Homo sapiens: one gene and its partners. The protein of the gene in region 1 purifies or fractionates together with the protein of each later gene. This does not show direct contact. Each region holds a gene or a part of one and is shown in the gene's direction. Other genes may lie near its edges. The genes, in order: SLC25A32, PMVK, PLS1 and CCDC25.

Region 1 (7,532 bases):
GACAAAATATGTGCAAGATGTTTGCTCAACAGAACTCTAAGCTTCCTGTAGGGCAGGGAACATTATTAATCTCTGGTGCTAAATACTGTGCTGATAGACACACGAAGTTGTGATTATGATGATATTATATAGCTATCATTTACTGAGCACTTTCTATGTTTGTTTACTTACTTAAAAAAGACTCACATAAGAGTTCAAGTGCCAGGCGCTGTTCCAAAAACCTTAACCGTTTAATCTCCACAGCATCCTATGTGTTAAGTTCTATTACTATCTCACACTTTATTGATGGGAAAACTGAGGCATAAAGAGGTTAAGTAACTCGAATACGACACGGTGGAGCCAGGATTCAAACCAAGGCAGTATGGCTCCAGAATCTATGTTTTAACTGTCCTGATACGCTGCTAAACACATTGTCTTGGTTAATAATCACGCTTAGGGCCGGGCGTGGTGGCTCACGCCTGTAATCCCAGCACTTTGGGGGGCCGGGACGGACGGATCACGAGGTCAGGAGATCGAGACCATCCTGGCTACCACAGTGAAATCCCATCTACTAAAAATACAAAAAGTTAGCCAGCGGTGGGGGTGGTATGTGCCTGCAGTCCCAGCTACTCAGGAGGCTGAGGCAAAAGAATCACTTGAACCTGGGAGGTGGAGGTTGCAGTGAGCCGAGATCGCGCCACTGCACTCCAGCCTGGCTGACAGAGTGTGACTTCATCTCAAAAAAAAAAAAAAAAAAAAAAAAAAAAAAAAAAATATATATATATATATATATATATATATATATATATATATATAATTATGCTTAGAAAGTAATTTTAAGCTCGTATGTCTAAAAAAACTCAGTGAGTAAAAAGTAAATGCATCTTCTTACCCCATGACTTCATCCTGCTGTTTCTTTCTGACTCCCTGGTAATGGTGTTATATCTAACATTCAACAAAGCTCTAGCCTAGGTCATTCTTATGTATTCCATCTTCCATATTCCCTACTACCAAAACTCAAAGTCCTACTCATCATCTCTTTGCAACACTTACTCATCTTTCAACTCTCTATTTCTAGTTTTTTGTGTTTTGTTTTTGTTTTTGTTTTGAGATGCGGTATCATTCTGTCACCCAAGCTGGAATGCAGTGATATGACTATAGCCTACTGCAGCCTCAACCTCCAGGGCTTAAGTGATCCTCCCACCTTAGCCTCTCACCTCAGCCTCCCAAGTAGCTTGGACCTGAGGCATGCACCACCATGCCCCATTAATCTTTAAATTTTTTGTAGAGACGGGGGTCTCCTTATGATGCCCAGGCTACTCTCGAACTCCTGGGCTCAAGAGATCCTCCCACCTTTGCCGCCCAAAGTGTTGGGTTTATGAATGTGAGCCACTGCATTCCCAGGCAGTTTGGGTCTTCATTATCTTATACTTGGGCTACTTTAATATCATCCCTACTTGATTTGGCGGCAATTTACACTATTATCAGATGTCTTTTTTTTTCTTTTTTTTTTGAGACGGAGTCTTGCTCTGTTGCCCAGGCTGGAGTGCAGTGGCGCAATCTCGGCTCACTGCAAGCTCCACCTCCCGGGTTCACACCATTCTCCTGCCTCAGCCTCCCGAGTAGCTGGGACTACAGGCACCCGCCACCATGCCCGGCTAATTTATTTATTTTTTTGTATTTTTAGTAGAGATGGGGTTTCACCATGTTAGCCAGGATAGTCTCGATCTCCTGACCTCGTGATCTTCCCGCCTCGGCCTCCCAAAGTGCTGGGATTACAGGCGTGAGCCACTGCGCCCAGCCTATCAGATGTCATCTTAAAACAGCTTTTTACATGTCACTCCCATGCTTAAAACTTCCAAAGGCTCCCTATATAGTAGTCTTCAAACTTTCTGTGTGCCCCATTAATAACAGAGTTTTTGAGCAGATCCCTTCTCAACATATGTGTATGTTAATGAGAGCATGTAATTAAAGATGTTCTTTTTTTTTTTTTTTTTTTGAGACGGAGTCTCCCTCTGTCACCCAGGCTGGAGTGCAGTGACGCAATCTCGGCTCACTGCAAGCTCTGCCTCCTGGGTTCACACCATTCTCCCGCCTCAGCCTCCTGAGTAGCTGTGACTACAGGCACCCAGCACCACGCTGGGCTAATTTTTTTGTATTTTTAGTAGAGACGGGATTTCACTGTGTTAGCCAGGATGGTCTCAATCTCCTGACCTCGTGATCCGCCCGTCTCGGCCTCCCAAAGTGCTGGGATTACAGGCATAAGCCACCACGCCCAGCCAAAGATCTTTTTTTTTAAGAAAAATCTTGATTCAACACTGTGATAGATTTAAAGGTTCTAATTTCAGCTTAATTCAATGTTTGGTTTTAATGGCTACTATTATAAAAAAAATTCAAGCAGTACTCACTTTCGCACTGTACTGTATTAACGGGACGGGTTGCATACTGGAATCAATTCCCCACTTTGCAAAGTTTCGTGGTTAACAGATGTGATTTCAATCACTGTAAACCTCTTAAAGAGTGGGACTGGTTCAGTTAATATGGTACTGTGCAAAGTGCAGAATGCCTGTACTTCACAAAGAAAGCATACCCAAAATGATAATGTCCATAATTGGCCACGTTTATTTAATATATTTAATTTTCAGTCTCATCCATCAGTTTTGCAAAGATTATTTTTGAAGTCTAGAAAATTTCTATCTACTCTGATGTCAGCAGCTGTTCCTACAACTAAAATTAGCATTTTAATAATTTCAACAGAAGTTTAAAAACCCCAACAAGATAGATCATTTTGTTTCTAAATCTCTTCATGTAGGCAAAAATGAATCTTTATAGATGGAGAAACTGACATTTATTAAAGCAACTATGTGCTAGGTGCTGTCTTAACAGTGCATACACGAACATGATTCTTCCCCTTTTTGGAGGCTAAGTCTGATGGGAAAGACTATTAACCAAAATAATAATCATGAGACAATGTGATAAACACTGTGAAGAAGTGATAGAATCACAGAAGACGGGTGCTGAAGGGGGCGGGGCTCATGCAGGAGGTAAGCAGGAACAGATTACTGTTCGGTGAAAGTCTTCCAGAGAAAGCGGCTAAACTGGGTAAGGGTGTGTGCCACAGGAGGCCTTAAAAAAGATGACTGAAACGCACTGAGATTTGCAAGGGTGAATACTAAACCACTTGTGGGAAACGTAGTGACTGACTAAAGTGGCAAGGAAGGTGGGACCAGAGATTCAAGGACTGGGAACGATGCCAAATCCAAGTGACAAATCTAATTTATATTTTAGAAACATTACTGCCTTGTGACAAACTGTAAACATCTTTTGAGCAGAGACTTATTAGCAATGCTCACACACATGTTGATAATATCTCCTACTCAACCAAAATAGTGAAATACTGTTTTCGCCTCATCTCATCTCGCTTACTCCTCATTCAAACTAATGACACAGCCCTTCTTTCTATGCCTTAGGTTCATTCCTGCCTGAAGACCTTTGCTCCTGTTATTCTCTTTATTTAGAACAATCTGCTTACGCATGGTTGGTCCCTTGTCATTTAGGTATCACAAAGTACAATTTATAAGTGGTTAGCATGTTAACGGGGGAACAGACCAGGAAGGATAAATTAATTTCATTTAACCATTCTTTCATCAAACTTCTTAAGGGATGGTAAGAGAAAACTGATGCTTTTAAATTCATCTTTGTCTCTTCCAACATCCACAACTAATGTGAAGTAGTAAAGCGGCAAGAAGAGCAGTAGGAAGGTTTTAAAAGCCTGTTTAACTCTCAGCCCTTCAACCCACGAGTTTGGCTCATTCAAGTCCACTTTTCAGTAATAGGAACCTGAAGACAATCCCAGAGCAGCAGCTGGAATTTTTCTCCACTATAGACAACTGTTTCCCACTCACCACTAGAGGAAATTCTTAGAAAAAGGACTTGAACAGACTTTACTTGCTATCCATCCAGTTCCGCAGCGACTCCGTAAGCACAAAGTTTGCCTTAGCGAAAGGTAACTGAGAAAGAACCAGACCAGAGTGCCAGCCTCCCCCGGCTTTACTCCGCGAAAGCCGAGGCTAGACCCAACGACTTGCGGAAACCGTCCCTTTCTCCCTACCAACTTATCTTACCTCTCTGTAAGTCCAACTTGGTTTCGCGGACATAATTGTCCGGATTCCGGCTCAGCATCTTCACCTTCATCTCGGTTGCTCTTCCGGCCGGACTCCACGAGGTGTCCGCTAGGAGTTCCGCCCACCGCCACCTCCTCCCACAGGCGACTTCCGCTTTTCCCAGACTACTTCCAGTCACGTGACTCGCGGAGCGGCGGCCTGCTGGCTCAACTGGATCCTGCGCCGCTCCGTAGTTTTGCCGGCAAACGTTAGCAAGGGGCGGTTCTTTAGCTGTGCAGTCGCTTCCGCGTCCGTGGGCTGGAGCATTTGTGGGCGAGGCAGGGCGGAGACTCGGGAGAGGCTGGGACCTCCCCTCCATCGCGCTTTCCGCCGGCGTGACGTAGTGTCTGTGCCCCGTTCTTGCCCCCTCAGTACTAGAGTCTCCGGCTTCGCTCACGCGCCTTGGGCATAAGAGTCCTCTCGTTGGTCCCGGAGGTGGGGTTGCGCTCACAAGGGGCGACCGTCGCCACGGTGGCGGCCACTGCATCGCGTCCCACCTCCGCGGCCCTGGGCGCCGTGGTGTCGACGGGCCCCGAGCCTATGACGGGCCAGGGCCAGTCGGCGTCCGGGTCGTCGGCGTGGAGCACGGTATTCCGCCACGTCCGGTATGAGAACCTGATAGCGGGCGTGAGCGGCGGCGTCTTATCCAACCTTGCGCTGCATCCGCTCGACCTCGTGAAGATCCGCTTCGCCGGTAAGAGCCCGCCCAGACACCGGGCTGCATCCTCTCACTGTCAGCCCGAACTGGATCTCCTCCGTCTTTTCCGTTCTAGGGGGAGGAGGAGCGTTGAAGGGAGCGTTGCTGTCCGCGTTGGCTAACCTGAACTAGATTTGAGGAAATGGTGCTTGGTGGAGGGGTCGGCCTGCGATCTTCCCCGCTCCTCAAGACTAAGAGAGGGGGCATGTATGTAGAGAAGTCTGAGAAAAAACATCCTCATTGGCAGAGAAGATGGGATTCAAAGCCTGATTTGTAAAATAAAGAAGGGATTGTCACATTTTAAGGTTTAGTCCTCACACGTGCAAATCATTCACTCTTGGAGGAACTTTGAAATCTTAGCATACCCACGTGGTTTGGCAGCTCGACTAGTATTGGGATAGGGCGTAATCTTCAGCGAATGGTTGGGAGTAGATTTAGAATAGAATTCTCTTGAATGTTTGTTTTTTGGCATTTGTAGAATGGTACAAGTTTCTGTGAAAAAATAGCTAGAATCGAAATACTATTTTAAGTGTATTAGATGAATTGAGTATGTTGAAATTAACAAAGCATTTTAGAAGTTAAACTCAACACTAAAGTCTGGAAAGAGTTTCAAAGATGATCTTTGATAACTGAAATTGCAGAAAATAGTTTCCAAATAAAGTTATTACAAGTTAAGTTCAGCCTTGAGAATTAAATCTACAGAAGTTGTTTATTTTAGCATTAGGCAATTCAGTTCACTTGATTTATATTCTCTTAATATTTGTAGACTGCTGTATGGGCTACAGAAGTATCTAATAAAGTTCTTGCCTTCAGGGAACTTAGAATTTAATTGTAGGCGTTAGACTTAGTCATATAAAAGGTAATTCTAGACAACATAAAATCAAGAAATACAAAAACAAAATATAAATACAGGTAAACCGTTAAGAAAATTCTACATTACTGATGGCCATGTGTATCTTTAAGGTTCAGTGGAAGATTGGGGCTTGGGGTTTCCCATAGAAGGGCTAATATTTTGACAGCTGGAGAGGAAGCAAGAACCCGTTCTATGAAGGAAAATCATCGAAAATTATGGAGTATTATCTCTAGAAAAAACACCACAAAGACATATAATGTCATGAAGTTTTATGATGCATGCACAAATAATTATGTTATTGACAAGTAATCTTTATCGAGTATTTACTAGGAGCAAGGCAGTGAACTATGCTTTAGATGCATTATCTCATTTATTATCCTGTAAATCTATTCACAGGAACAATCCTGTGAGTTTATGATATCTGCTATACAGATGAGGATAACAGAAGTTGACTAACTTGCCCAAGTCACAAGTTTGTAAAGATGGATCTGGGATTTAAACCCAGGTAATCTAACTCTGGAACCCTCTGGCACTTAACCCCTCACCGTATTACCTCTATAAGTACCTGTTATACAATGGTTTGAACATTGGAAGAATTTTAGACTTGCCTGCAGGTGCAGGCCTGTATGACTTGCTGTCTGTCTTCAGTAGCATTTTATCTAGGAGCAGAAGAGGTGATAGTCGAGGTGATCATTGAAGAATAGTGTGGTTGGCCTGATGAGTTTAGACAGTGCTTTGAAGCATATCATTCCTGAGGAAAGGGAATTCTTGGTACCTGAGAAGATTAATAGTCTTGATGAATTGGGAAGAGTATTAGGAGACTAGTGGGGCTGAGGTGACAGATAAAAGGATTGAGTTTGGATTGGAGGCCTAAATTAAAGATCCAGGAGTGGAAGCAGGACTTTGTAATAATAAAGCTCACAGTGTAGCTGTGAAATGGTGATAGGAGGAAAACTTAAGAAGATGAATAACGAAATAAAAATTTATTGATTATCAACATCAGTGCTGAGTAACATACTATAATTTTTATGCTTCCATGTAATTAAACTCATTTAATAAAGTTAAAATCTAATGATGACAGGGTGTGGGGGTTAATTCTGAATGCATGTGCTATTAAACCAAACCTGGAATTTTTCTGTGAGTTCAAGTATAAATTGGAACTCAGAGGTGTCCAGAGTGGTAGAAAGATTAGAAATTACTTCATATGAAAAATGACTGGAGGAACTAGTTTAGCTCGGGAGAGAAAAAAACCTCAAGATATTTAGAGAACTTACATGTGGGAAAGGGGGCTGCCTTATTGTGGGTTGATCCTAAGGTCAGACACAGGTTGAGTGGAAATTACAAGGAAGCAGATTTTGGTTTGGCAATGTGGCAGTGCTCAGAAATGAAATTGATGATGATCAGAAGTGGTTCAGATAGTAGTTGGATGACAGAAGTTAGAAGATATTCTTGTATTAGGTGGAAAGATTGGATTGGATGATTATTCAGGCCCCTTCTAACTTTACTCTGTAATTTTAAACCCTCAAGAATGATGAGAGAGCCCCAACAAAGAATGAGATGTAAAAATAGTAATTTTCTCAAATACCCAAAAGCCTAATCTGCAAGTTAAAGTTGTGTGTGAGCTTTTGTGAAGAATGTAGAGACTATGACTACATCCAAAATATTAAGGAACCAAAACGTAAAATTCAGTAACAGTAGTGCCGAGTAAAGTTGTGTAAGTATGTGGTATCGCAAGACCCAGTAGCATAAATAAACTAGTACTTACAGAGTGCTTGCAATATGTCAGGCATAATTCTAAGAGCTTTATATGTACTAACTGATTTAATCCTTTATAATTTTT
Region 2 (7,021 bases), on another chromosome or scaffold:
GAGTTTGAGACCAGCCTGGCCAACATGGCAAAACCCCGTCTGTACTAAAAATACAAAAATTAGCCGGGTGTAGTGGCGGGCGCCTGTAATCCCAGCTACTTGGGAGGCCGAGGCAGGAGAATCGCTCAAACCTGGGAGGCGGAGATTGCAGTGAGCCGAGATCGCGCCATTGCACTCCAGCCTGGGTGGTGGAGCAAGACTCCGTCTCAAAAAAAAAAAAAAAAAAAAAGGTTGGTTAAGTAAATTAAATAACGAATGAGTTATTTTTATTTTTATTTTCATTTTTGAGATGGATTTTCACTCTTGTTGCCCAGGCTGGAGTGCAATGGGGCGATCTCGGCTCACTGCAACTTCCACCTCCTGGGTTCAGGTGATTCTCCTGCCTCAGCCTCCCGAGTAGCTGGGATTACAGGCATGCGCCATCATGTCCGGCTAATTTTATGCTTTTAGTAGAGACAGGGTTTCACCGTGTTGGTCAGGCTGGTCTCAAACTCCTGACCTCAGGTGATCTGCTGCCTCAGCCTTCCAAAGTACTGGGATTACAGGCGTGAGCCACCACACCTGGCTTTTGTTTCAGTTTTTTAAATTTGCTTTTCTTATTTCATTTTTATGAGACAGGGTCTCACTCTGTCTCCCAGGCTGGCATACAGTGGTACAATCATGGCTCACTGTAGCCTGGAACTCCTGGGCTCAGGAATGCTCCCACCTCAGCCTCTGGAGTAGCTGGGAGTACAGGCACATGCTGCCATGCTCAGCTAATTTTTAAATTTTTTGGTGGAGATGGTATCTCTGGGTCTTATTGTGTTGCCCAGGCTGGTCTTGAACTCCTGGCCTCAAGCACTCCTCCTGCCTTGGCCTCCCAAAGTATTGGGATTACAGGTGTGAGCCACCATGCCCAACCAGTGAATTAATAAATGATATATGTTATGGTGACCAAGTCAGTGGAGACAGATACCTCTGGCTATGAGAGAATTAGTTTAGGGTCTGGGCAATAACCTAATCCAGCTAGAATATTGTGCGCCTGTTCACACTGTAATTAGCACTTTATAGGTTTTACCTGTTAGTTTCAGGGCTCTTTTATATTCTTTAGAGTTTCATAATAATCCTGTGTGGGAGACAGAACAGAAAGTGTTATCCCCATTTTCTGATGAGGAAACAGGATCAGGGACATTGAGACCTACCAAAGTTACATAATACCAGTAGTAGAAATGGGACTTCAACACAGGCCTCTTGACTCCCTTTCTGGGACATGGAAGCTCCTGGAAATTCTAGGCTAACTGGATTCTGATCTCCCTGTCCTGCAGACTTGGAGCTGATGTCTGTGCTGTCCTCCGGCTCTCTGGTCCACTCAAGGAACAGTATGCTCAGGTAGGTGGTGCTTTGTGGCATCCGGTGTGTTGGGCGGGGCCGGCTCCAGGACTTTGGAGCTGTGGCTGCTGCCTGAGTCACTGGCATGATTCCCGTCACCACTGCTGGCAGGGTGGTGGCCAGCTCTTGGTTTTCTGTGAGTGGACCTTTCGGGGGCATTTTCAGCTTATATTTCTTTCCTAATAGCCTCCCTCCCTTCAGAGTGAGTTCAGGAAGGTGTGCCCAGGAAAGGCTGTCGACACTCGAGTTGGCAGCTCTGATGCTGTGTGATTAGTAAGGACCTGCCTGTGCCTCCTCACACCACCCTCTCACTCAGCTGGCCTGACACAGCCCCTAGAACTTTGCTCCTAGAAATTTAGTACAGGCCGAGCACGGTGGCACATGCCTGTAATCCCAGCACTTTGGGAGGCCGAGGCAGGTAGATTGCTTGAGTCCAGGAGTTAGAGACCAGCCTGGCCAACATGGTGAAACCCCATCTCCGTTTCTTTAAAAAAAATTTTTTTTAAAGTAAACAACAACACACAAAAAAGAAATTTAGTCCCAGAAGTTGTCAAAATATATCATTAAGTGAAAAAAAAAAAAAGCCAATACCAAGATATAGAACAGTGTGTAGAGAATGCTACATTTGTCTAAAACTGAAGAGGCACTTTGTGACCAAGAATTGTAAAAGAATTCTAAATATATCTGCTCATATATTTGGCTATTTAACAAATATTTACAGGGTGCCTGTCTCATGTTCAGCACTGTTTCAGGTGCCTGGGATGTGTTCCTGCACTGCATGGGAAAGACAGGTTAGAAACCGTACCATTGGTTGCCCCCAGGGAGGGGACAGGGTGAGAGAGAGATTTTCGACTGTAAATTAATGTGTATCTTTGAATTTTGAACCACATGGATTAAAAAAAATAGAATCGTTAAAATAGAATAAAAAAAATAAGTCAACAGGAACTCTCAGAATCTTAGACTTCAGAAAGGGAACTTGGAAGGCAAGATCAGCCTCCCACATGGTGAAGAGCCCTCTTGTCGCCACATTTTGCCCTTGACCTCTAGGTGCACCCTTCTGGGACGTGTGCTTTGGCCCCTCAATTGGCCAGAGTGTGGTTTCCGGAACCACATAAAATGAATTGTCCCCCCTTCTATATGCCATCTTTGCCTCCATGGGAAGCATTGGGTCATCTCTCACCAGCTGAACAGACCTATTCATAGGGTGGCAGCCTGAGGAATTGTAAGAATAACTAAATTAAGTGGTTTATTTTTTTTTCTTTTTGAGACAAGGTCTTGCTCTGTAGCGCAGGCTGGAGTGCAGTGGCGCATAATGGCTCACTGCAGCCTTGACCTCCTGGGCTCAAGTGATCCTCCCACTTGAGCTTCCCAAGTAGCTAGGAATACAGGTGCATGCCACTATGCCTGGCTAAGTTTAAAATTTTTTTTTGTAGAGATGGGAGTCTCATTATGTTGCCCAGGCTGGTCTCCAACTCCTGGGCTCAAGTGATCCTCCCACTATGGCCTCCCAAAGTGCTAGGATTTGGGCAGGAGCTACTTTACCTGGCCTGGTTTTCAAAAATTTTAAGCAGGATTCTTTCCCAAATGAAACTGGATACAGAATTTCTTTGTATCCAGGAGACAGACTGGGAGCGATGCTGCAGGGTGGTGGGGTGGTGGTGGGGGGATGGGAGGAAGGAAGGGGTGAAGGGGAAGGCACTGAGCCTTCCCTAGTGGGGCCTAGGCACTTCCAAAGGCCTCCCAGGAGCACTTTCAAAACTGATCTTCCAAAGTTCCCAGACAGGTCTTGCTTCTGTCCTACTGAGTGAGACTGGTGGGGTTGGGTGGGGGGCGGGAGGAAGAAGGAGCAGGAGTTTGCATTTTTATTTATTTATTTATTTTATTTATATTTGAGACGGAGTCTCGCTCTGTCGCCCAGCCTAGAGTGCAGTGGCACGATCTTGGCTCACTGCAACCTCCACCTCCTGGGGTTCAAGCAGTTCTACTGCCTTAGCCTCCTGAGTAGCTGGGATTGCAGCCATGGGTGACCACGCCCGGGTAATTGTTTTGTATTTTTAGTAGAGACATGGTTTCACCATATTGGTCAGGCTGGTCTTGAACTCCTGACCTTGTGATCTGCCCGCCTCGGCCTCCCAAAGTGCTGGGATTACAGGCGTGAGCCACTGTGCCTGGCCAGTTTGCATTTTTAAAAGCTCCATGGAAGACTCTGATAGGCCAGACTGCCCTTGCTCTGTGCAAGTCCAGCACCACTCTATCCCCCACTCCCATTAAAAAACAAAACCAAAATGAAATGTTCATGCATTGATTTCCTAAGTCACAAGAAGAAATATAACCAACAAGTAGACCACAACGCTCCTGGAGGGAAACTGGTTCAGGAGCAGGAGGTGGCTACTGACCTCCTCTTGCAGCAAGGGGAGCAGGTGGGTGATCAAGAAATTGAGAGCCTGAGGGGAGAAGGTCTTGTTGCAGTGAGTTCATGGAGGAGCCAGAATCTGAACGAGGTGATGCTTTTCAGACCCCTCCTATCCTGGATCCCTTTGGATGGACCCCTCTGCTTGGAAAGGGGAGAAAGGAGTTCCCCAGGGTGGTCAGAGTAACCTCTCCTGCCTTGGGGGTCCTCTGGGTGTGGGAGGCCTTGCAAGTGCCCAGAGCCAGATGGAGTGATGCTGTTTCAGCAAAGGCGCCAGGAATTTGGGGATGGGAAGGGGTAAGGGGGAGAGAAAGGAGACACAATCTCCGTGGGATTTGGGATGGGGGCAAACAATGCTAGTGGGAGGACATGGAGTGCAGGATTTTTTTTCCCCCCTCAGATTTCCCACTTTAGTTGAAGGCTAAGCCTTTGCCCAGGGGATGCAAACTAATTTCAGTATTAGTTTAAGCCAGAAATAATTGGGAAGGTAAAACTTGCAAAAGAGAAACCACGCCACATATTTCAAAGACAAATTGAAACAATTTCTGGATTATCCCCAGACCTTTCTTCTGTCTACCAGTGATCGGGATTTCTTAGTTGCTGAGACTCTTGCCCTTGCAGACCTTTGTCCTGGCTGAAACCTCATTAATCCTTGCATCAGCCCTGGGGGAGGCAGGTGAGGGTGAGGGATGGCTCTTCCGCTGTTTTAGGAGAGACCACTGAGGTTGAAAGGCCGGTGACGTAGACATAATGTCCTTTGGGCAGGAGCATGGCTTGAACTTCCAGAGACTCCTGGACACCAGCACCTACAAGGAGGCCTTTCGGAAGGACATGATCCGCTGGGGAGAGGAGAAACGCCAGGCTGACCCAGGCTTCTTTTGCAGGAAGATTGTGGAGGGCATCTCCCAGCCCATCTGGGTAAGAGGGCTCCATGGCAGCATGAAGAACACCTGTTTCCCTAGCTCTTCGCTGTGTCCATCTCTCTCTGTCTCCACTGCCACCATCCTGGCCCAAGCCCCCACCATTTCTGGCCTGGACAGTCGCAGTAGCCTCCACACTGGTCTCTAGCTGTGGCTCTTGCCCTCTGTGGTCTATTCATTACACAGTAGCCAGACTGACCTTTTATTATTTATTTATTTATTTATTTATTTATTTATTTATTTATTTTTGAGATGGAGTCTCACACTTGTCGCCTGGGCTGGAGTGCAGTGGCGCAATCTTGGCTCACTGCAACCTCTGCCTCCTGGGTTTAAGTGATTCTTCTGCCTCAGCCTCCCAAGCAGCTGGGACTACAGGTGTCCACCACCACGCCTGGCTAATTTTTGTATTTTTAGTAGAGACGGGTTTTCACCATGTTGGCCAGGCTGGTCTCGAACTCCTGACCTCAGGTGATCCACCCACCTTGGCCTCCCAAAATAGTGGGATTACAGGTGTGAGCCACTGCATGCGGCCCAGACTGACCTTTTAAAAACGTGAACCAGGTGATGTCACTCTTCTGTTTAGAATACTTTGGTGGCTTCCCATTGTGCTCATGAACAAAATGAAAATCCTTCACATGAACTTCTGGGCCTTGTGTGATCCAGTTTCTGCTACTTTTTTAGCCTCCTTACTCCTTAAGCTGTAGCAACACTGGCCTTCTTGGTCCTCAAGTCAGTCGAACTCCTTCTGGAATCAGGGCCTTTGCACATGCCCTTCCACCTGTCTGGACTGCCCTTTCTTTCTCTTTCCCTGGTTAGCTTCAGCTCAGTTGACATGACACCTCCACAGGGAAGCCTTCCCTAATATTCAGGTCTTAACTGGTGCTCCCTGGCAGGTGCTCCTATAGCACCCTACCCCTTTTTTTCCTCATTCATTCTGGCAGTGAATATTGAGTGTCTACTTCTGCCAGGTGTGGTTGCATGTTGTGGGGATATATTGGTGCAAAAGCGCAATGAAATCTCTTCCTTCAGGGAGCTTACATTACAGCTGAGGGTGGCGGGGAGATAGGCACAGAATAAATACAGAATATATCAGGCAGTGGTAAATACTAAGGAGTAAAATAAAGTAGGCCTAGGATATGAGGAGAGATAGGGAAGCGTTGCTGTTTTATTAAGGGTGCCTGGGAAGGCTACACTGATATGATGATGTTTGAGCAAGACCTGAAGGAAATAAGGGATAACTGAATGGATATTTGGGGAAGTAGCTTTCCAGAGAGAGGGAGGAGGAAGTGCAGAGGCTTGAGTGGTGAGTGTGCCTGGTGTGTCTGAGGACAAGCCAGGTGGCCAGAGTGGTGGAAGGTCAGGTCAGACTTCCCAGGGCGGACCTTTGGGAGAGCTGGGATTTTATTCTGAGTGAGATGGGGAGTCACTACAGCGTTCTAAGCAGAGGAGAGACATGATCTGATTTCAGATTGAGAAGCCTGGCCATAGCTGCTGTGGGGAAGATGGGAGCAGAAGCACAGGGGCCGGGTGGAGGACTTTCCTGTGTTTTTTTTTTTTTTTTTTTTTTTTTTTTGAGACAGAGTCTCACTCTTGTCACCAAGGCTGGAGTGCGGTGGCGCGATCTCAGCTCACTCTACCCTCTGCCTTGTGGGTTTAAGCGATTCTTGTGCATCAGCCTCCCGAGTAGCTGGGATTACAGGCATGTGCCATCATGCCCAACTAATTTTTTTTGTATTTTTAGTCGAGACGGTGTTTTACCATTTGGCAAAATTTGAACTCCTGACCTCAAGTGAACCACCCACCTCGGCCTCCCAAAATGCTGGGATTACAGGCATGAGCCACCATGCCTGGCCAGGACCTTTCTGTAACAGACAAAATGACTATGGTTGGGGCGCAGAGGGGAGCAAACGTAGAGTGGAGAGAAGGGGTCAATTTTGCGTGTATTTTGAAGAGAAAACCAACAGGATTTGCCCTTGGGTTGGCTGTGGGGTGTGAGAGACTATACCAAGGATTTTGTTCTGAGCAGGTGGACAAATATAGAATTATCATTTTCTAAGACAGGGAAGGTGGGGAGGAACAGGATTGGAGAGGAAATCAGGAGTTGAGTTTCAGCCGTGTTGAGGTTGAGACACTTGTTGACATACACTGTAATCACATGGTTATTTGATTACTGAATACTTGTTCAGTGTCTCCCACTAGACTGTAAGCTCTGAGAGGGCAGGCACAGGGTCTGTTTTGCTTACCAGTCTAGCCTTAGCACCTAGCACAGTGACCAGCGTACAGTAGGTACTTACTATAATACTTGTTTAATTGGATTAATGAA
Region 3 (8,017 bases), on another chromosome or scaffold:
AAGTGAGACCCTGTGTCTCAAAAATAAATAATGATTAAAATAAACAAATAAAATTATCCCCTTTATCATTTCATGAGATTTTAGGTGGTAGGTGGGTTTAGGTGTGTGTGCTTTGTTGGCTATTTTGATCTTATCTGTGTTAGATCAAAACGGTGTGTGTGTTAAATTTTGTGTGTGTGTGTGTGTGTGTGTGTGTGTGTGTGTGTATGCATGAGAGAGAGAGAAGTTTTGCCCTGTTTTTTTGGACTTATTTCTCATATTATTGTTTTCTCTTCTAAATGATTTATCATAAATTCAGAGTTGAAATGAATACTGAATCTCCCATCCAAGTACTAACCAGGTCTGACCCTGCTTGGCTTCCGAGATCACACGAGATCGAGAGTGTTCAGGGTGGTATGGCCACAGACTGAATATTGAATCTTAGTCTTTCTCACATATGTTTTTTTCTCTACTCTCTTTGTTCTGGAAAAAAAAAACCAGCCAAATGAAATAAATATGGTCACATCACACTTGCTGGTATCATTCAGAATGCACCTACTTTTCTAAAATTGATTGTAAAATTGGTGCCTATATAGTAGCTGATTTCGGGATGCTGATCAGGGCTGGGTTGCAGTGGGGTGTTGTGGTTATAAGCATGTTAGAAACCATCAGGCTCTGGGGAATGAACTAACATTAGCCACATTCACAGAGACTCGGTTATAATCCAGAATGCCAATATTTTTCCCTTAGAATACAGGGACCAGTATTGTAAATAGTAGAAAACTGGAGTTGAATCCTGGTTCTTCCATTAGCTTTTTTTTTTTTTTTTTTTTTGAGGCAAGGTCTCACTCCGTCACCCAGGCTGAAGTGCAGTGACGTGATCTCAGCTCACTGCAACCTCTGCCTCCCTGCATCAAGCAATTCTTCTGCCTCAGTCTCTCAAGTAGCTGGGACTACAGGCACATGCCACCACACCCAGCTAATTTTTGTATTTTTTGGTAGAGATGAGGTTTCACCATGTTGGCCAGGCTGTTCTTGAACTCCTGACCTCAAGTGATCCACCTGTCTCGGCCTCCCAAAGTGCTGGGATAAGCCACCGCGCCCGGCCCGCCATTCACTCTTGAGTTGGAATCCTGGTTCCGCCATTCGCTGTCTTTGTTACCTATTATTATTGAATCTGCACTTTTGTCTTCATGAATATTAAATGAAATAAACAATGTGAACTTCTTGGCACAGTAGCTAGTACATAGAAGACATGGAATAAATATTAGCAATGATAATGAAGATGATGATGGCAGTAATCACTAGAGCTCTGCTTTTTTGGTAGCCCTCTTAGTATCAATGAGCCTGGAAAAATAAATTAATAATTCAGATGGATCCTTGGAAACTGTGAAATTAGCAAAGATTGTCTTTATATAAAATATATTTTAAAAATGTAGTTGTAATTATTTAGTCTTTAGTTGTGTTATCATGGGAAAAATAACATTTTGTACTTCAGTTTTCTCATCTGTAAATTGAGGATAATTTCATAGGGTTGGCATGGATATTCAATGAGTAAATACGGTGAAGTGTTTAAAATGGTGACTACCCAGTAGCAGCTCAATTTTTTTTTTTCGGATAGGGTCTTGCTCTGTTGCCCAGGCTGGAGTCCAGTGTAGTGAACATGGCTCACTGTAGCCTCAGACTCCTGGACTCAAGAGATCCTCCCATCTCAAACTCCAGAGAAGCTGGAACCACAGGCACATGCCACCACACCTGGCTAATTTTGGTTTTGTTTTTTTTTTAGAGATGGGTTTTTTCCACGTTGTCTAGGCTGGTCTTGAACTCCTGAGCTCAAGTGCCCTTTCCACCTTGGCCTCCCAAAATGCTGGCATTACGTGTGTGTCACCATGCCCTGCTTTATCCTCGTTTTATTTTTAGTTCGTGATTTTTTATATTATTTTGAAAAACAACCCCCAGCTTAAAAGATGTTATTTTTTTCAACCAACAGTTGGAATACATGATTAGATATAATTTATGTAATAAACAAATATTTAAATGAAGACTATTCTACAAAAATTGGAACATATGGTTACTATAACTACAGTGTACATTTTTAACTAGTTTAAAAATCTTTGTATGTATTTTTTCTCATTGCTCTGCAAGCCAAAAAACAGGTCCACCAAATATACCATCTCTTTGTGAATTCTTACGACCTGATACTATTACTTCAATTGTTTTCAAACGATTGCTCTTTTAATTATCAATGATGGCCAGGTGCGGTGGCTCACACCTATAATCTCAGCACTGTGAGAGGCCGAGGAGGGTGGATCACCTGAGGTCAGGAGTTCGAGACCAGACTGGCCAACATGGAGAAACTCTGTCTCTACTAAAATTAAAAAAATTAACTAGGTGTGGTGGTGTGCACCTGTAATCCCAGCTACTCAGGAGGCTGAGGTAGGAGCATCTCTTGAACCTGGGAGGTGGAGGTTGCAGTGAGCTGAGGTCGTGCCACTGAACTCCAGCCGGGGCAACAGAGCGAGACTCAGTCTCAAAAAAACAAAATTATCAGTGAAACCCTTTTATCAAATAAGATTTCACAAGATACTACAATATGTAAGCAGTCTGGGTTAGGGTCCTTGATCCAGAGCCCTGCGTATTTTTCTCTCCATGAAACCCAGAGCTCCTGGAAACACAGTTTGAATACCTTATTTGTCATTGCTAGTGATACAATCAGTTAAGCAGGTAACAATTTTCTTTATATAATTATTACACGCTGGTTGTGCATTTCTTTTTTTTTTTTTTCTGAGACAGAGTCTCGCTCTGTCGCCCAGGTTAGAGTGTAGTGGCTTGATCTTGGCTCACTGCAACCTCTGCCTCCTGGGTTCAAGAGATTCTCCTGCCTCAACCACCTGAGTAGCTGGGATTACAGGCGCTTGCCACCACGACCGGCTAATTTTTGTATTTTTAGAAGAGACGGGGTTTCATCATGTTGCTCAGGCTGGTCTTGAACTCCTGACCTTAGGTGATCTGCCCACTTTGGCCTGCCAACGTGCTGGGATTACAGGCGTGAGCTACTGCACTGGGCCCTGGTTGTGCATTTCTAATGATATACTCTAGTTATTATTTTACACTTGGAAACAATTTTGGGAAACGGTTTTATCAATGGTATATTTACAAATCATATCTTAGGGTTGGCTGCTTTTACAGAGGGTTGTTACAGACATTTTATATGCATTATTTTTAGCTTCATTTACAGAGGATGACTTTTTATTTTACCTTTCCCAAATCAGGTTATACCATATTTAGAATCTACGTTTCCTCATGAACCTGCCCTGGTCAATATTACCACGAAAAAAAAACAGATCATAAGAGTATTTCATGAAAAAGTGTTCTCTTATCAAACTTATTGGTGAATAATTTACACACATTTTTCATGTTTAAAGTGTACAACTTAGCGATGACAGTTGTATACACCTGTGAACTTGTCACTACCATCAAAACAGAGAAAATTTCCATCGTCCCCCTCCAAAAATATTTTTTCTGCTCATTTGCAGTTTATCCTTCCCTCCACTCCTGGCTCCAGGCAATTACTAATCTGGGTTTTGTCATTATAGGTTAGTTTGTACTTCATATAAGTGGGATTATACAATATGTTTTGTCTCTAGCTTCTTCAACTCAGCATACCGATTTTGAGAGTTATCCATATTGAGTCCTGTGTGAGAGTATTTCTTCTTTTTTATTGTTGAGTAGTATTGCATTGTATAAATATACCACAATTTGTTTTTTCATTTACATGTTGTTGGACAGTTGGGTTCCTTCTGGTTTGGGGCTTTTGTGAAAAACAGCTGCTATGAGCATTCCTGTTCAAGTTTTTGTGTAAGCATATGTTTTAATTTCTCTTGGATAACATCTAGGAATGAAATGGCTGGGTCATATGTTAGATGTATGTTTACCTTTTAAGGAAATATTTTGCTTTATTTTGTGAGAACTTACTTAACTCCCCTTGCATATCTAGATAAATAAGTATCAGATAAGGATACTAAATTTACCAGATTCTCTAGGTGGCAGGTGGGAAAAATCAGATAAGAATACTAAATTCACCTGATTCTCTAGGTGGCAGGTGGGAAAAATTCCTTATCTTCCCTCTCCATGGCCCACCTACTTTCATAGTTCATTGCTCGTCCAATTTGTTTGAGTTCTTAAAATAATTTCAACTTCCCCCCTTTATTTTTTCTATTGTTACCATCTCAGGGTTGGTTGGGTGCCTATTCTGTATTGGATATTGTGTTAGGCGCAGAAGGGGCACGTGGGACTTTGAGTTAAAGGGGCAGCAAAACCTTGTTCTGTTCTCTGGACTGAGTTGGACAGACCACAACTACGGATTATGCTTCAGGCAAAGTATGTGAGAACTCTTGAGGCAGCATTCCATTTACCTGACTCACATGCGAGAGAAAATATCCCACTTTTGTTTGAGTGTGGGCTTTAGTTATATATTTATTTTAATCAGGTGTGGCTGTTAAAGGAAAAGGAAGCAATCCGTGAAACAAACGGAAAAAAAAAGAGTAGGGGAGAGAAACAAGTCTTCCTTTAATAACGTATACCTTTCCTTTTGACCAGCAGGTCCCAAAGTGTGGTACCCAGACTAGTAGCACCAGTTTTCGCTGAGAACATGTTAGAAATGGGAACTGTCGCGCTACGCTCCAGACCTAACTGAATCGGAAACTCAGTTTCCGGGTTTGGGATCTGTGATTTAAAAAGCTCTCCAGGTGATTCTGATCCACGCTCAAGTTTGAGAACTGCTGTGCTAAACTCATTCCCAGGGTGTAGGTGGTCATCTTTAGACTTGGGTAACTGTGGGCGGTAGAGATAACGTTGCCGCAGCGCCCGTCCACCTCTCCCCATCCACGCTCCCAGCGCCTGCAACTCCTCTTTCACCCTTAGCCTAAACCCAGGTTCTGGGCTTCCCTTTCCCTCCCCTGGGAGCCGCAGGCAAAACGCGGCAAGTGGATTCAGAGTTTGCGGGCCCGGGTGCCGGCCGAGCATGCGCAGTGGCGCGAGCGCAGCGGCTACGCGGGCGCGGAGAGGTAGCCGCAGAGTGGACCTGCAGGTACTTGGATCTCCAGTGGGAGCTGCCCTCTCGAAGGCAGGACAGCGGTGGCGGCAGGTACGCGGGGGTGGGGATAGGGCCCAAAAGGAAGGCTGGACAGACAGATGGAAAGCGAAGCGTTACTCCTTTGGGGGCGCGCGGCGGCTCGGGGGCAGTATCTCCGGGTCCCCTCGCTCGCGTCTCGTCTCCTGGCTGTGCAGTGTGGCGCCCGCCGTCCTCTGGGCACGCTTCTGCCCAGTCCCGGCAGGCAGTGCCCGCAGGTGTTAAATCGCGTATTTACACTGCTTAAACAATAAGCCTGTTAACTGAATTGTGATTCTATGCAATGAAATAAGGTATTTCATTAAGTTTTCTTCTTTCAACTTTGGGTGGCTGCCGGTGAGGCTTTCTGAACCAGCCTGTTTTGTTTTAATTCTGGGACTGGTTTATTTGCCTTTGGCCTTTTGGTGCATAGGATCAATAGGGCTGTAGTGAAATCCCATCCGTGCTGTTTTTGGTACCTTTCCTGGAGCATAGGGACCTCTGGATGCGGCATAAAAATGTCAGTTTTCAGCGAATTTCACTGCCAAAAAACTTTCCGTGTTTCAGCTGCATTTTCAAGTGGAGACTTAAAAAAATTTAAGATTTCTCCCTAACTTTTCAATTATTACTGTATTTCGGTCTTCATTTGGTACTATTAAAAGGAAGCGGTCGTTTAGATGAGTAACAGAATTCTCACTTTTCCTCCTTTACTTACTTACTATGTCACATTTTATGGCTTATACCGTGATATCTTTCCCTCCAGCCACGGTGTTGGATACACTTGTATGAGGCTTCAGCTGTGCTGCATAAATTTCTTGAAGAACCTGTGAGCCAGAAGCAAAATTTCAGGACAGGGGGCACACACTGAACTTGAAGCAAGTACTTTTACACCCCCCACCACCTTTGTAATCAGCTTTCCTTTAAGTTGAATTATGTAATGAAATTCTATAGTAAAGTGTTAATGTGTAATGTGGAGGCATATATATATATAGAGAGAGAGGTAGTAAGTTTAGGAAGAGGAAATTTTAAGTTCAGGAAGAGAAACCTATATGGAAAGGGAATACAGGTATCCTGCCCCCCTTCATTCCTCCCATGATAAATGTTTTAATGGCAGAAATAATATACAGCTGGTCTAGTTTTGGCTGTAGAGACCTTTGAGGTCAGCCAGTTCAGCTGCTTCAGTTTACAAATGAGAAAACTGAGACCAGCGAGGTTAGATGACTTGCTGTGGCCACCCAAGCCCCTCATTGGCAAAGCTAGGCCTGGGATCCAGGTTTTCTCATTTTCTGGGGTCTTTTTACCACTCCCTGCAGATACTCTTCTTTACCTCCATTATTAAACTTCCTTTTTCTCTTCTACTTATACCATGAAGTCTGGCTTAAGCAGAAAATTAGTTGTTTCTCTTACTAAGCTTCCTAGTACCTCATAAATTCCTTTCAAAAAGTGCCCTTTCACTGAAGCCCCACCTAACAATTTGCTGGTCCTGAAAACGCCCTCCTTCCTTCCCTCAGTCACCTGGGCCCTTTGCCCAAAATGCCTGTTTGCCTCCCTCTTTCCGTATTGAAGTCCTGCTCATGCTGCAAGGTGTAGCTCAGGTGTGACCTCTTTTTGGAAGCCTTCCTTGATTGCCTTAGCATGAAGTAGCTCTCCCTCTTCTGAACCCTATAGCACTTACTACTGTTGTTTGTGCTGTTAGTATCCCCATTGTATATAGTATCCTGAGTATTTTAGCACCTCCCAACTTCCCGACCAGGAAGTTGGCAGGTTGTGTAAGCTCTTGGAGGTTAAAGCCTATGACTTAAACATCCCACCCAGCACTAAGCACAAAGTATATTCTTAGCCCCTGTTTGTGGGAGGGAGTGGGGGAAGGAAGTGCAGTATGTATAGTTTTGTAAAGAGATTTCATGTGTGTTCTATAATATGGGGAAGGCCATGTTAGAGCTGTATCAAGACAGCAGCCAAGTCCATTTCTGATTCCTCATATTTTGATAACAGATCACAGATTAGTTAGGGGGATTACAGGAGACAGGCGTAAAAACACGGGTCAGTTGGTCCAGGCCCTGGATTAAGCCTGTGACTCAAAGTGGAGAAAAGAGGGCACAGAATTAAGAAATGTAAAGGAAGAAGCATGTGGTGAAAGACTAAATGCAGAGAAGGAAAGACATGTTGAAAATGAATTTCAGGGTTGGGGTGTTAGTAATGGGTTTATAATGTTCTTTTTATCTTAAAAGTACCTCCAATTGGCTGGGTGTGGTGGCTCACGCCTGTAATCCCAGCACTTTGGGAGGCCGAGGTGGGTGGATCACAAGGTCAGGAGATTGAGACCATCCTGGCTAACACGGTGAAACCCCATCTCTACTAAAAATACAAAAAATTAGCTGGGGGGGCATGGTGGTGGGCGCCTGTAGTCCCAGCTACTTGGGAGGCTGAGGCAGGAGAATCGCATGAACCCGGGAGGCGGAGCTTGCAGTGAGCCAAGATTGTGCCACTGCACTCCAGCATGGGCGACAGTGCAAGACTGCATCTGAAAAAAAAAAAAAGTACCTCGAATTGTGACATTGTCTCTGTTTCTTAGTTAGTGATGTAATTGTCTTATTTCCCGTTCTAGATGATAAGCTCTCTGAAGGATGACCTTTAACCCTTCACAATACCTGGCACATTGCTTTGCAGTATCAGACACTCAATAGTTATTACATGAATGAATGAATAAATAAATAAATAAATAAATAAATAAATAAATAAAAAGTGCATTTTGCCATGGGGAGGGTGGGCATTTAGGATCTTAGAGCTATATGGTAGCGCTTTATCCAGACTATCCCCTAATTGTATAGAGGAGGGACTCAGATATTCTTTTTTTTTTTTTTTTTTTTTTTTGAGATGGAGTCTCGCTCTGTCGCCCAGGCTGGAGTGCAGTGGCGCAATCTCGGC
Region 4 (7,139 bases), about 76 Mb from region 1:
GATGTGTCTATACTTTGGTTGATACTTAGCAGTTAAACTCTTCTGTGGTTTTTTGTTGTTCTTCTTGGAGCAGACTGGTTTTCCTTGCATTTTTTCTGTCACAATGGGAAAAGATTTATCTTCATCATTAGTTTTTAGACAAGTAGATCTACTCTCTTTTATCAGCTTTCTCTCCAGTGGATTGAGGTACCACTTATTTTGGTTGTAAAAAGATACAGTGGAGAGCGCAGATTTAAATGGTGAGCCTTGATTTGCTGATGGCAGTCTATTTATTTCAGTTGTTTTGAGCGCACTTAAAACAAAATGCTCTTGTTGAGAGCAATGCAGGTTTTCTTCATTTTTATCACTGTTTTGATAAAAACAGTGCTTTTTATTAGGTGATGGAAACAGATTTTCAGTGAAGTGTAAAAGGCTATAAAAAGAAACAAAGTCCATTGATAAGATTATTTTGCGTCAAAATTTACATAAATCTACTGCTAAGTAAGCTCTACTTGTAGGTCATATTAAAAACAATACATGTACCCCCCATACACACAATTTTCTATTAGTTTAACAGTAGGATTCTCAAATTCTGTCTTTATCAAATAAAACATTCAAATATCTTCCCAAAGAGTTCATGAAAACAAATACTATATACAAAGAAGCTATGATAGACATATATGCATGTATGTTTTAAAATCGATTTCTATGTGTTGGCCATATATAAATTATAGCTCATATATTTTGCTCTATTGTTTACAAGCCCCCTATAATAACTGTCTGTAATGAACTGACCCCCTGGGGCTTTTCCTGGGTAGAGTAATTAATATCTGAGTACACAGTCTTTCTAGAATTGTTTCCAGACAAGCATCTACTGTATGCAAAACACTGTAAAATATTATAGGGGAACAGAAAGGAAAAAGGTAATAGCTGATTTGGTATATTTCCTAGCTATAGAAAACAGCTTTCTTCAATGTGCTGCTTCTATGTCAAAAGAAAAAAACAAAAACTAAAAAACAGCTTTGATTCCCTTGAAAAGGACTAAATAATTCATTATGAAAACTTAATGTATTTCCAAGCTAGAATTAGAATATAGGTTATCAGGTTATCACTGTAGCCACAAGGAGTAGGCTAGTGGAAGAACGAAAATTTTAGAAAATAGGAGAGAACAAGAGAGACAAGAAGGTGGATTTTTCTAAGAGTTTCTATTCACAGGCTGAGATTCACCTGTCACACTTCAAAGAATCCTGCTTCCTCTTCCTTGGAGTAAGAGCTGCCATTTTCTTTATTGAATTCCTAAAAGAAATGACAATAACCACATTCATCAAAATATTAAAAATCGCTTTATCAAAATTATACCCCCTTTAATTAGTCTATTTCACACCAAGTTAAAACCCTATTTTCTGGGAGGTCTTCCTCGACATTGCTCTCCTTCCACCCCTCCAAGGGTTACACGCGCTTGTTCTGCTTCCATGGCACCCTGTATTTCCCTAATAGTCCATTTAAGACATTTTCTTGTTTCCCCATCTCAACAGCCTTCAATGAAGGCAGAGACCGTCTGTAACTTTTCATCAGAGCCCAGCAAGAAAACGGGTGAAGCACAGTCCTCTGCCATTTTCCTAGCTGATGAGCCCGGAGCAAGCCGTTTGCTTCCCTTTTTATAAAAATCTCTTGAAGTCGTAAGGCTGCTGAAAACAAATGCTAGAATGCACGAGCAGGCGGCTACGTGGCTCGTCAGAATTCATTTCCTTCCCCTTCCCTGGGATCAGGGAAATTCCCCCCAAAGCAGCACACAAGCGTTATTTCAAAGCTATTAATGAATGAACAAACTGAAAGGCCAGGGTCTCTGGGAATTCAGGTCGAGCTGCGGCTTAAGGGGGGACCCCTCTGGGGCTAAGCGAGGAAAGGTAGGAGAGGAAAGCGTCCCGACCCTGAACCCGGTCAGGGAAACAAACAAACAAACAAACCCTAAACCCAAAACAAGGAAACGCCGGCGTCGGGAAGAGGGAAACCCGGCGCCTGTGAGCGCGGAGAACGAGTCAGTGGCTTCTTCGGTCTCGGGCCTGCGGACCTGCCGAGCGCCGAGCAAAAGCTCTTTCCCCGTGACATTCGCCCCCACGTTCCACAGGGTCTCCCGCTCGCCTCAGCCTTCCACAGCCCCCCGCCTCGGCCTACTCCAGAGGTTACCTGCGCCTCAGAGCCCGGCGAGCTCTCCTCAGCCTAGCCAGCCGCTCCGTGAGCGTCTTCAAATAATCGCGCGCCAGGCTAGGAGGAAGCCGCTGCGTTCCGATTGGCCACGGCTCAGCGCTTCCAGGGGCTGGCTCGGTGATTGGTGGAGCACCAGCCCTTGCCCCGCCCACCCTGGTGGCTGTTTCCAAGATTCTCGCGCCCTGGTGAGGTGAAAAATCTCTGAGGGAAACCACGCCACCCACAATCCCCTGCAGCAACGCCGGACTCCGTTCCCGGGGCCTTGTTTAGGTGCATTCTGGGAATTGTAGTTCTCGGTCCAGTTGAAGTTGAGATACATTCTGGGGTCACGGGGTAAGAAATTTTTGTAAAATGGCCTCTCCAGCCTGGCGACAGAGCAAGACTCCGTCTCAAAAATAAATAAATAAATAAATAAATAAAGGCCTCTCCAAGATTCTCGATGCACTTATTTTTCACATTTGAAGCTTCATTGTCAGTTTCACTTTTTTTATTAGTAACTTTAGGTTTCTATTTATTTTTCAAATTAAAATATAAAACTTAACACCTGCTATGTGCCAGGCATTCTTAGATGCTTTACATGTTTTGTTTCATTTACTTCTTACCACAATCTGTAAGGCATTAATATCTATTGCCATTCCCATTTTACAAATAATACAACGGAGAACCCAAAACAATTGCTATTTACAGAACAGAGCTAAATTCTTACTTTGGAAAACCAGAAAGTTCCTAAAACGGTTATTGTTAGCTATTGTTACTATCTTTGTGTCACCAGCTCCTGGTACAGTGTTTCTGGCACATTTTTAGTTTCAAATAAGTTTAGAGTTTTATGTTTATTTTTTCAAATTTAATTTTCACAAATTTGTATGTCATCCTTGAGCAGGGGCCATGTTAAAGTTCTCTGTATCATTCCAATTTTAGTATACATGCTGTCAAAGCAAGCATGTAAATAAATTTCGTTAAGTGACGCCCTCAATTTCATAGAATGAAGTCAGTGACAGTGATGTAAGAGTGTCAGTTTAAAAGGAAAAGGCTGAGGCAAAAAAAAAAAGAATGTAGAGTTTGCTTGAGTTAAAGCGGGGACAGCTGCCCAGAAGATTCCAACCCCCCTCCCCCCACCGCCCTCCACCAGCAGGCTTGGATATGAGCTCTGTCTGGCCTTTGCTACAAGCAGGTTTTTAAAGACGAAGAAGGGGGGCAGGAAGTGGGCTGATACACAACTGTCAAGCATTCTCATTGATGTATAGAAACTACAAGCATCAGTGATTGGCTAGACATTGTTAAACTATAGGGTGTGGGTCATGTCATAGTGTCTTGTGTGGCAGTGTTAGGTTAGTAGGTAGCTACCTGTGGCAGAAGCAGGTAGTTTCAGTAGATGAATACATAGCTCAAGGGGGTGGTAGAACATGATGGGGTCTTATCTTAATGCCTCTCCAGACCTAGTAATTTAAAGGGACTCACATTCCTCAGATAAAAGTGCTTTCTCAAGAGAAATAATCAGGGCAAAGCCAAGTGCTGTAGGAGCTTTACATGAATATGATTATTCCTACTTTATAGCAGGAGGACCTCTGAGGTTCAGAGGTTTGGGATGGCAGGCCTTCGATTTAAGCCAGAACAAAGTCCAATCCCCAAGAGGCATATTGTCCTGGTGAGTATCAGAAACAACTCGTTTGTGTGCTATGTTCTAAACCCTTGGCGCCCATTAACTTATTTAACCCTAAAAAATATCCTGTGAGTTAGCTGCTCTAGTATCATCTTCATTTCGCTGCTGAGGAAAGTGAAGCACAGACAGGTTAACTAACGTGCCCAAGATGCCCAGCCTCTTTCCCTTAACCCACAAATCACTGAACCAAACTCCTTGCCACTACACTTCGCCTCGCCAGGATTAAAAATGGCGCCCACGGCCGGCGTTATGACGCGCCCCGACGTCCGCCGGAAGTGCACGGAGGAGTTCCGGGGGCCAGGCGGCCGCCGCGAGTCTGGTATCCTGAGCTTCGTGAGTTGAGCGCTGCTGCTCCGCGGTGGAGTCACCGCACCGCTCCCGGGATCATGGTGTTCTACTTCACCAGCAGCAGCGGTGAGTGGGCGCCACGTCCTCCTGGACCCTGCTGGACAGCGGGCTCCGAAGCCGGGACCCGCAGTCCGCCGCTGCGCCTGACCCTCGCTCTAAAATGCCTTCTGGATGCGAGTGCCTCTTCCCGCGGCCTCTCGGTCCCCCAGCACATCCGTCCCTCCCACGGCTGCAGGATTTCCCCCGGCGTCCCCTCGTCATGGCGTGGGGGGCGCGGAGGGGCGATGCCACTGCTATGTTTGTATCGGGGAGTTCTCGTCCCCTAATCGGAAAGACGTCCCGTCACTCCCTGGGATTGGGCAGAGCCTGTGGGCTCCTCCACACACCTTATCCCAAGTCTTCTTCCCACCTTCCATCTGCGGCCTTTGTTCTGGCTGAACCCTTGTAATTATCCCCTGTGAGAAAGGAGACACCTGCTAACAACTTTTTCTTAAGGGAAGCGCGACTTACCCTTTCAGGAAGGGGTTGTAGGGTCTGGGATGCAACAGAAAACAATAAAAAGACCCTGGGATGTCCACCCAGCCACTCTCCGGGCAGTTGATGTCCCAGATCTCAGAAGTGACCTATGGTAATGCTTCTGACTTATCTTTGACAGATAAGGAAAGGGTGCCCTTCGTTCCCAGGAAATGCAGTGTCCCGACTTGGTTTCGTTCTGTTCCTGTTATTCCCCTTTCCTAAAATCAACCCCCAGCTAATTCCCTTAAGACAGTTTTGGCCCATCTTTTCCAAGATGCCTTTCCTGATGCTAGCTCCTACCCCAAGATTGCTTAGCTATTCCTTTCCTGGGACCCACTTAACGTTCCAAGTATGCCTTTGGCATTGCACTTATCACGTGGTATTAAATGGTGTCTGCTTGAGCTAGAGTGTAAGTCCCTTGAGGGCGTGGACAGGATCTCTTTACAGTAGTCCCTACTTGTCCTGTATTTCGCTTTCCGTGGTCACATCATCACAAGAAGAAAAGGAGTGAGTACAGTACAATAAGGTTTTGAGAGAGAGAGAGAGCAGAGTCACCTAACTTTTATTACAGTACGTTGTTATAATCGTTCTATTTTATTATTAGTTATTGTCAATAATCTCTTACTCCACCGAACTGATACATTAACTTTATCATAGGTATACATATATAGGGAATACCAGTAGCCATGCGTCCCTTAATGACAAGAATACATTCTGAGAAATGCTCCATTAGGCGGTTTCATTGTTGTAGCAACACGGTAGAGTATACTTAAACCTGTGGTATAGCCTACCACAAATGTAGGCTGTACAGTATACCGTTGCTCCTAGGGTACAAACTTGTACAGCACGTTGCTGTACTGAATGGCTGTAGGCAATGGTAACGCAATGGTGTTTGTGTATTTAAACGGGTCTCAACGTAGAAAAAGTGAGTTGCACCACGCTGTTATGATGGCTACCAGGTCATCAGGCAATAGTGATCAGAATTTTTCAGCTTCGTTATAATGTTATGGGACCACCATAGTATGTGTGGTTTGTTGCTGACCAAAGCATCATTATGTGGCAAGTCCCTTTATATATGGAATTCAGTGTTGTCCTCGGTTTCAGGCATCTGCTGGAGATCTTGGAAGACATCCCCCACAGATAAGGGGGGACTACTGTACTTGTTTCCCTAACGTAGTGACTGGTTAGTAGTTCTCAATAAATGCTTGTTGAATAAATGAATGCCATTTTTTTACTTACTTATAGCACTTTCTATTCTATTGCTACTCTATATGCTTGTTAAAGGTGAGTTTTTTGTTTTTGTTTTTGTTTTTTTTTTTTTTGGAGACGGAGTTTTGCTCTTGTTGCCCAGGCTGGAGTGCAATGGCACGATCTCGGCTCACTGCAACCTCTGCCTCCCGGGTTCAAGCGATTCTGCTGCCTCAGCCTCCTGTGTAGCTGGGATTACAGGAATGCGCCACCAAGCCTGGCTAATTTTGTATTTTTTTAGTAGAGACGGGGTTTCTCCATGTTGGTCAGGCTGGTCTTGAACTCCCGACCTCAGGTGATCTGCCTGCCTCAGCCTCCCAAAGTGCTGGGATTACCAGCATGAGCCACTGCGCCCGGTCTAAAGGTGAGATTTATTTTATTTATTTTTGAGACGGAGTCTTGCTTTGTCACCCAGGCTAGAGTGCAGTGGCACGATCTCAGCTTACTGCAACCTCCATCTCCTGGGTTCAAGCGATTCTGGTACAGCTAGGATTACAGGGACCAGCCAACATGCCTGGCTGATTTTTGTATTTTTAGTAAAGATGGGGTTTCATCATGTTGCTCAGGCTGGTCTTGAACTCCTGAGCTCAAGTGATCTACCCACCTTAACCTCCCAAAGTGCTGGAATTACAAAAGGTGAGTTTTTGTTTTGTTTTGTTTTTTGTTTTTTTGAGATGGAGTCTCCCTCTGTCACTCGGGCTAGAGTACGGTGGTGTGATCTCAGTTCACTGCAACCTCTACCTCCTGGGTTCAAGCAATTCTACTGCCTCAGTCTCCCAAGTAGCTGGGATTACAGGCACACGCCACCATGCGTGGCTAATTTTTGTATTTTGTTAGTAGAAACGGGGTTTCACCATATTGGCCAGGCTAGTCTCGAACTCCTTACCTCAAGTGATCCACCCGCCTCGGCCTTCCAAAGTGCTAGGATTAAAGGCGTGAATCACCACGCTCAGCCAAAAGGTAAGATTTAAGTGAAACTAGTTCCACATTGTTTGTGTGGGTTTGAATAAGGCAATACTTTCTCTTTAGAAGTAAGATTGAGGCTCAGGGAAGTTGTAACTCACAGACCCTACTCTTCCACCTTCATCACACTGACATCTCCTTATTTTTCTCAGTAGTTTAGCCTTCCACAGTGTGTGCCATGAGCTATTTCTCTGTCTCTGTACATGTGGTTTGTTTT

What was found.
Region 2: the proteins of SLC25A32 (region 1) and PMVK purify together in Homo sapiens (affinity purification with mass spectrometry; 3 studies listed by BioGRID and IntAct, with this or other methods). This does not show direct contact.
Region 3: the proteins of SLC25A32 (region 1) and PLS1 purify together in Homo sapiens (affinity purification with mass spectrometry; 3 studies listed by BioGRID and IntAct, with this or other methods). This does not show direct contact.
Region 4: the proteins of SLC25A32 (region 1) and CCDC25 purify together in Homo sapiens (affinity purification with mass spectrometry; 3 studies listed by BioGRID and IntAct, with this or other methods). This does not show direct contact.

Annotation. Positions count from the first base shown.
Region 1 is NC_000008.11:103,412,088-103,419,619, reverse strand, and holds the start of SLC25A32 (solute carrier family 25 member 32), read left to right. Parts: upstream 1-4,512; 5' UTR 4,513-4,682; coding exon 4,683-4,836; intron 4,837-6,088; exon of another isoform or gene 6,089-6,197; intron 6,198-7,532. Other genes in the region: DCAF13 (DDB1- and CUL4-associated factor 13), read right to left, coding at 4,104-4,173. UniProt on the Homo sapiens protein: Facilitates flavin adenine dinucleotide (FAD) translocation across the mitochondrial inner membrane into the mitochondrial matrix where it acts as a redox cofactor to assist flavoenzyme activities in fundamental metabolic processes including fatty acid beta-oxidation, amino acid and choline metabolism as well as mitochondrial electron transportation.
Region 2 is NC_000001.11:154,926,699-154,933,719, reverse strand, and holds part of PMVK (phosphomevalonate kinase), read left to right. Parts: intron 1-1,304; coding exon 1,305-1,368; intron 1,369-4,543; coding exon 4,544-4,696; intron 4,697-7,021. UniProt on the Homo sapiens protein: Catalyzes the reversible ATP-dependent phosphorylation of mevalonate 5-phosphate to produce mevalonate diphosphate and ADP, a key step in the mevalonic acid mediated biosynthesis of isopentenyl diphosphate and other polyisoprenoid metabolites.
Region 3 is NC_000003.12:142,591,385-142,599,401, forward strand, and holds the start of PLS1 (plastin-1), read left to right. Parts: upstream 1-5,008; 5' UTR 5,009-5,125; exon of another isoform or gene 5,126-5,964; intron 5,965-8,017. UniProt on the Homo sapiens protein: Actin-bundling protein. In the inner ear, it is required for stereocilia formation. Mediates liquid packing of actin filaments that is necessary for stereocilia to grow to their proper dimensions.
Region 4 is NC_000008.11:27,769,635-27,776,773, reverse strand, and holds the start of CCDC25 (coiled-coil domain-containing protein 25), read left to right. Parts: upstream 1-4,133; 5' UTR 4,134-4,233; coding exon 4,234-4,261; intron 4,262-4,705; exon of another isoform or gene 4,706-4,800; intron 4,801-7,139. Other genes in the region: N-acetyltransferase ESCO2, read right to left, coding at 1-412, 1,207-1,259.